Homo sapiens: one gene and its partner. The protein of the gene in region 1 purifies or fractionates together with the protein of each later gene. This does not show direct contact. Each region holds a gene or a part of one and is shown on either strand. Other genes may lie near its edges.

Evidence for each region. Proteins that work in one complex are often made in the same cells at the same time.
Region 2: the proteins of MAN2B1 (region 1) and NENF fractionate together in Homo sapiens (co-fractionation; one large-scale study listed by BioGRID). This does not show direct contact.

Annotation. Positions count from the first base shown.
Region 1 is NC_000019.10:12,652,703-12,656,742, reverse strand, and holds part of MAN2B1 (lysosomal alpha-mannosidase isoform 1 precursor), read left to right. Parts: intron 1-55; coding exon 56-172; intron 173-863; coding exon 864-1,049; intron 1,050-4,040. UniProt on the Homo sapiens protein: Necessary for the catabolism of N-linked carbohydrates released during glycoprotein turnover. Cleaves all known types of alpha-mannosidic linkages.
Region 2 is NC_000001.11:212,439,420-212,442,919, reverse strand, and holds part of NENF (neudesin precursor), read right to left. Parts: intron 356-3,500; coding exon 295-355; intron 1-294. UniProt on the Homo sapiens protein: Acts as a neurotrophic factor in postnatal mature neurons enhancing neuronal survival. Promotes cell proliferation and neurogenesis in undifferentiated neural progenitor cells at the embryonic stage and inhibits differentiation of astrocytes.

The DNA.
Region 1 (4,040 bases):
GGGTTTGGAGAAGGCCTGCTGTGACCCATGCCCTCTCTGACCCCCGCCTCCCCAGTTCCAGGTCATCGTTTATAATCCCCTGGGGCGGAAGGTGAATTGGATGGTACGGCTGCCGGTCAGCGAAGGCGTTTTCGTTGTGAAGGACCCCAATGGCAGGACAGTGCCCAGCGATGTGAGCCCAAACAACGAATATTCCCCCGCTGGGACTCCTCCCCCAGTGGGCATTTCCTCATCGCCCCCATGGATATCGCCTGCTTCCATGAATACCTCCCACTCATGCATATCTCTTCCCCCCTCTTGTATCTTCTCCCTCTGCCCCTTAATATCAGTCTCCCCTTGGGAACATATGCCTCCTGTGAGTGGTCCTCCCTTTTTTTTTTTTTTTTGAGACGGAGTCTCGCTCTGTCACCCAGGCTGGAGTGCAGTGGCGCGATCTTGGCTCACTTCAAACTCCGCCTGCTGGATTATAGGCATGAGCCACCGTGCCTGGCTGGTCCTCCATTTTAATACCCCGCTTCCCCAGGAAAATTTATTGCTGTTTATGGACATCTCCTTCATTCCAGAAAACGTCCTCCCCCAAACCTCTTCCTCCCCCGAGAACCTGCCTCAAGGGTTTCTTCCCCTACTTCCTCCTTCACTCCCCCGACTCCATGGTCTCTCCACCCTCCCGGTGGGTTTTTTTTTCCACCTGGTGAATCTTCTCTGCAATCATTTCCTTGGAATCTGACTGTCCCCCCACCACACACACCTCCATTTCCTTTCCCCATCTCAGGACTCTTTTCCTTCCTTGAGTTTTTTGTCTCCATGCATGTATAGCTTTCCATGGGTACTCTTGACTCAGTTTCCCTCCTCCTTTATCCGAGGTGGTAATATTTCCCAGCTCAGACAGCCAGGCGCACCCTCCGGAGCTGCTGTTCTCAGCCTCACTGCCCGCCCTGGGCTTCAGCACCTATTCAGTAGCCCAGGTGCCTCGCTGGAAGCCCCAGGCCCGCGCACCACAGCCCATCCCCAGAAGATCCTGGTCCCCTGCTTTAACCATCGAAAATGAGGTGAGACCCCATTTCAATCCCCTTTCCTGCTCCTGTGACAAATTTGAAGTGTCATGGTGAGCTGTGTGGACTCTGGGTCAGCAGGTCCCTAGGCTTATGACCTCCTGTCACAACTCCCCTCATTGTGTGTCCTTGAGCAAGTGACCTTTGTCTGAGCCTCAGTGTCCTTTCCTGGGACTGTTATGAGGACCCAGTGTGATCATGGGTGACACTTGACAGACATGTCAGAGTTGGTGGCAGGTGGTGGTTCGCAATTTTGGCAGGGACGTTTCAGGGAAGGTGTTCCCGATAAAGGTGACATTTAAGATATGACCTGAGGGAGGGAGCCGTGTGGCTATTTGAAGGAAGAGAGATCCAGGTGGGGAGAGAATAACAGGCATAAAAGCCTTCGAGCAGGAGAGTGTGCAGAATTCCAGGAGCCACAAGGAGCTCAGTGTGGCTGAAGCAGGGTGAACGGGTGACAGGTCAGACCTTGAGGGCCTTGAGGACCAACAGGAAGACTTTGGCTTTTGCCAGTCATTGTTGCTCATGTGTCTACTCCTAGCTCTTTGGGAGGCTGAAGCGGGAGGATCACTTGAGCCCAGGAGTTGTCCCAGCTAATTGGGAGGCCCAGATGGGAGGTTTGTTTGAGCTGGGGAGTTCGAGGTTGCAGTGAGTAATGATTGTCCCACTGTACTCCATCCTGGCAACAGAGTGAAACCCTGTCTGAAAAGAATAATAATAAAATAGGCCAGGCATCGTGGATTATACCTGTAATTCTAGCACCACGGGAGGCTGAGGTGGGTGGATCTACTGAGCTCAGGAGTTTGAGACCAGCTTGGGCAACATGGTGAAACCCAGTCTCTACAAAAAATTAGCTGGGGGTGGTGGTACACGTCTGTAATCCCAGCTACTTGGGGGCTGAGGAAGGAGGATTGCTTGAGCCCAGGTGGCAGAGGTTGCAGTGAGCCGAGATCATGCCACTGCACTCCAGCCTGGGTGACAAAGTGAGACCCTGTCTCAATAAAATAAAATAAAAGAAGTTCTGCAGTAGGACTGTTCATGTTAGGAAGAAAACATCTTTTTCATATTTTTATTAAAATAAAATAAAAGAAGTTAAAACGTTCCCACAGGCCCCTAAAAGTCTTGTGAGTTCTGGCATTGTGGTTCACACATCAGATGCCCAAGTTGGCCCTGGTCCGCAGCAGAGGAGGGCTTTGATGGGACTTAGGGTATCACAGGTGTGCTCTGGCTGTTGTGGGGAACAGACTGTAGGCAGCCAGTGTGGAAGTGCAGGGACCTGGAAGGGGTTGACTGCACTGGCCCTGGAAGGCCCTGGTAAGAGGTGGTGAGGTTGAAAATAAGGTTGGGGGGGCCGGGCGCGGTGGCTCACACCTGTAATCCCAGCACTTTGGGAGGCCGAGGCAGGCAGATCACGAGGTCAGGAGATGGAGACCATCCTGGCTAACACGGTGAAACCCTGACTCTACAAAAATACAAAAAATTTAGCCAGGCGTGGTGGCGAGCATCTGTAGTCCCAGTTACTCGGGAGGCTGAGGCAGGAGAATGGCGTGAACCCGGAAGGCGGAGCTTGCAGTGACCTGAGATGGCGCCACTGCATTCCAGCCTGGGCAACAGAGTGAGACTCCGTCTCAAAAAAAAAAAAAAGAAAAAAAAAGAAAAAAAGAAAAGGCTGGGGTGGGCACGTTGGCTCATGCCTGTAATCCCAGGACTTTGGGAGGCTGAGGCTGGCAGGTCACCTGAGGTCAGGAGTTTGAGACCAGCCTGGCCAACACAGTGAAACCTCGTCTGTACCAAAAATACAAAAATTAACTGGGCGTGGTGGTACACACTTGTAGTCCTAGCTACTCGGGAGGGAGAGGCAGGAGAATCACTTGAACCCAGGAGGTGGAGGTTGCAGTGAGCCGAGATCATGCCACTGCACTCCAGCCTGGGGGACAGAGCAAGACTCTGTCTCAAAAGCAAACAAAAAAAAAATCAGGTTGAATGGCTGGGTGTGGTGGACTGCTTGAGCCCAGGAGTTGGACACTAGCCCCAGGCAACATAGTGGGACCCCCATCTCTAGAAAACAAATTTAAATTTTTTTTTTTTTAATTTAGTAGAGATGGAGTTTCACTATGTTGGCCAGGCTGGTATCAAACTCCTCACCTCAGGTTATCCACCCAACTTGGTCTCCCAAAGTTCTGGGATTACAGGTGTGAGCCACCACGCTCGGCCCTAAAAAAATTTTAAATTGAGAAAAAAAGGGGCCAGGCGTGTTGGCTCATGCCTGTAATCCCAGCACTTTGGGAGGCTGAGGGGGGGGTGGATCATGAGGTCAGGAGTTCGAGACCAGCATGGCCAATATTGTGAAACCCTGTCTCTAATAAAAATACAAAAATTAGCCAGGTGTGGTGGCATGTGCCTGTAGTCCCAGCTATTCAGGAGGCTGAGTCAGGAGAATTGCTTGAACCCGGGAGGCGGAGGTTGCAGTGAGCCAAGATCACGCCACTTTCTGCACTCCAGCCTGGGCGATAGAGCGAGACTCAGTCTCAAAAAAAAAAAAAAAACAAAAAACCCAGGCCAGGTGCAGTGGCTCACGCCTGTAATCCCAGCCCTTTGGGAGGCCAAGGCGGGTGGATTACCTGAGGTCAGGAGTTGGAGACCAGCCTGACCAACATGGCGAAACCCCGTCTCTACTAAAAATACAAAAATTAGCCAGGCATGGTGGCATGTGCCTGTAATCCCAGCTACCCAGGAGGCTGAGGCAGGAGAATTGCTGGAACCCAGGGGCAGAGGCTGTAGTGAGCAGAGATTGCGCCCCTGCACTCCAGCCTGGGCGACACAGCAAGTTTCTGTCTCAAAAAAAAAAAATAAAAATCCGGCTGGGCACAGTGGCTTATGTCTGTAATCCTAGTACTTTGGGAGGCCAAGGTGAGCAGATCACTTGAGTTCAGGGGTTTGAGACCAGCCTGGCCAACATGGTGAAACCCTGTCTCTACTAAAAATATG
Region 2 (3,500 bases), on another chromosome or scaffold:
AATACAAAAAAATTAGCCAGCGGTGGTGGTGGTGCCTGTAATCCCAGCTACTCGGGAGGCTGAGGCAGAGAATTGCTTGAACCCAGAAGGCAGAGGTTGCAGTGAGCCAAGATCGTGCCACCGCACTCCAGCCTGGGTGACAGAGTGAAACTCCGTCTCAAAAAATAAAATAAAATAAAATGGAATGAAAAGGACTTGCCTAATGTTCCCTCCCTTTCCTCACACCTCCAAGTGCTGCTCACTCTGGCTTCTGTGCTCCCTGGAAATGAAGATTCAAAATGCCACACCACTTACCCTTTCCGGAGGTGACATCAAACACCACTCCCTTCACTGCCAAGTAGATGGGCTGATCTTCCTAGAAAGCAGGGGAGAAGCTGTGAAGAGGAAGGGAAGAGCCAGCTCTTCCAGTGCAACTTAGTAAAATCTTCTCCCATCACAAGCTGAGCAAAGAGCAGTGGGTCAAGTCCCAAAGGCTTTCTGTTAAGCCTGGTCCTTGGCGAGCTTGCCACCTGCCTGGGCAGCGTCATGCCCGCACACAGAAATTTGGAAAAGTCATAAAGTCTCATGACAAGAATGTGGCAATTCTCTCCTTTATAGAGAAAATCAGGGGCCAGGCACAGTGACTCACGCCTGTAATCCCAGCACTGTGGGAGGCCAAGGCGGGCGGATCACCTGAGGTCAGGGGTTCAAGACCAGCCTGGCCAATATGGTGAAACCCTATCTCTACTAAAAATACAAAAATTAGCCGGGCATGGTGGCACATGCCTGTAATCCCAGCTGCTCGCGAGTCTGAGGCTGGAGAATTGCTTGAACCCTGGAGGCAGAGGTCGTAGTGAACCAAGATCATGCCACTGCACCCCAGCCTGGGTGACACAGTGAGACTCCGTCTCAAAAAAAAGAAAATCAGGAACAGAAGCAACTTCATGGAGATGAAAATTCAAAAGAATAGTAAATGATGAATTACTTATCAGTCCAAATTTCCTTTCCTCTTCATCAATAGACATACACGGATGTGACTGATATGAGCAATCTATTTTATATTTTGCTTCTTACAGGTAACATTCCCTCATATAAACATTTCCACCAAAATGACTGTCATTTAAACAGCTCCATGGGGCCCCATCTTTTTTTTTGAGACAGAGTTTCACTCATGCTGCCCAGGCTGGAGTGCAATGGCGCAATGTCAGCTCACTGCAACCTCCACCTTCCGGGTTCATGTGATTCTCCTGACTCAGCCTCCTGAGTAGCTGGGATTACAGGCACCCGCCACCACGCCCCGCTAATTTTTTGTCTTTTTAGTAGAGATGGGGTTTCATCATGTTGGCCAGGCTGGTCTCGAACTCCTGACCTCAGGTGATCCACCCACCTAGGCCTCCCAAAGTGCTGGGATTACCGACGTGAGCCACCATGCCCGGCGTAGGGCCCCATCTTATATTAGTGATATTGTCTACCTATTTGTTTAGCTAGCTTTCTATTTTGGGTATTTGGGTGGTTTCCAATCCTTAGAACTATAAATGGCAGCATTATGAATACATGTTTCTATCAATTACTTTCTAATTTGGTGACTTATTTCATTGAGGCCTTTATTTAAAAATTTCTCTCCACCCAGTGAATGCATAGGAAAGTGCCCTATTTCAATATATGGAATTCCTGGGCCTAAGTATATGAAAACTTAATCACTGTTTATATTTTATTAGTTTGTCCTGTAACAACATTTATAGTGCTAGAGATATGTAAGCAATGCTGTTTCCCCACCGTTCTACTAACAATGGGCTTTACACTTTTTTTTGGCTCTATTAGCAGGCATAAAATGTTACCTCAGAATTTCCCCACCAAGAAAGAATTACACAAAAAAGGATGGCATGACTTTTCTAGCTTCCATCAAGTTGGGCTCAGGCTGGGACGATGGGTACAGTCCCAAGACACCCAAGACAAGATCTCTCCTTTGTCTCAGTGCCATCAGAGGTGCAGGGGCATCAGCCAGGTGGCTCACAGCCCAGGCGAGGGTGGGAGTCGCTGCTGGGTCCATAGGAATCTCAGGCTCTGCAAGCACCTGCTGCTTGGCCTTCTCTTTGGGGTGGGCCTTAGTGTTCTTGCGCTTGTGCAGCTTATGGTGAAGGGTTTTCATGATCCCATTTAACAGACAGAGGAGCTACTGAGGCTCAGAGAAGCTAAGCAACTTGCCCAAGGAAACACACCTCACTGCCTCATAACCACTCAGGCCTGCTTCTCTGCCTGTCATATGAGGGTAACGCCCACTTGCCTCGGGAATGCTGAGGAAAAGAGTGTACGTAATACCTAGCAGGCACGACACAGGAGCTCAGCAGAGGGCTGCCTTTTATTACTCCAAACCGGCTCCTAAAGACAGGCCCTAGAGGACTGCCATTGACTCTGTGGACACTTGCTCCACCTCATCTAACACGGGTCATTTGAAACGGCCTGGATTTCCAAGCCAGCAGACGGCATTTTTCTTTGTGATGATTTACCGCCTTTCCTTTACCAGGTTTCCTTATTCCTCAGCTTTGATTATTTATCAAGTGGGATTATGTATTTATATCAATTTTAAAAATATATTACAGCTATCATTTAACCCCAGTATTTTGTCATATCTTCCATTCTGTGGCTTTCTCCTTGATACTTCTTTTCTTTTTCCTTTTTTTTTTTTTTTGAGACAGAGTCTTACTCTGTCACCCAGACTGGAGTGCAGTGGTACAATATCGGCTCACTGCAACCTCCACCTCCCCAGTTCAAGCGATTCTCCTGCCTCAGTCTCCTGAGTAGCTGGGATTACAGGCACACGCCACCATACCCAGATAATTTTTGTATTTTTAGCAGAGACAGGGTTTCACCATGTTGGCCAGGCTGGTCTCAAACTCCTAACCTCAAGTGATCTGCCCGCCTCGGCCTCCCAAAGGGCTGGGATTACAGGCATAAGCCACCATGCCCAGCCGACACTTATTTTCTATGGGCAAACAGCCATATAAATATAACATTCACATACATAAGATAAACAAAAACATGCATCTTATCACTAACACTCTTTTCTTTTTTTGTGGGGGGGGGACGGAGTCTAGCTCGGTTGCCCAGGCTGGAGTGCAGTGGCACAATCTCGGCTCACTGCAACCTCTGCCTCCCAGGTTCAAGCTATTCTCCTGCCTCAGCCTCCAGGGTAGCTGGGATTACAGACGTGTGTCACCACGCCTGGCCAATTTTTTTTTTTTTTTTTTTTTTGTATATTTAGTAGAGACAGGTTTCACCATGTTGGCCAGGCTGGTCTAGAACTCCTGACCTCAGGTAATCTGCCTGCCTTGACCTCTCAATGTGTTGGGATTATAGGCATGAGGCAACACGCCCGGCAAACAATCTTTTTTTTTTATGAGAAGGAGTTTCACTCTTGTTGCCCAGGCTGGAGTGCAATGTCATGATCTTGGCTCATCGCAACCTCCGCCTCCCGGGTTCAAGCATTTCTCCTGCCTCAGTGTCCCGAGTAGCTGGGATTA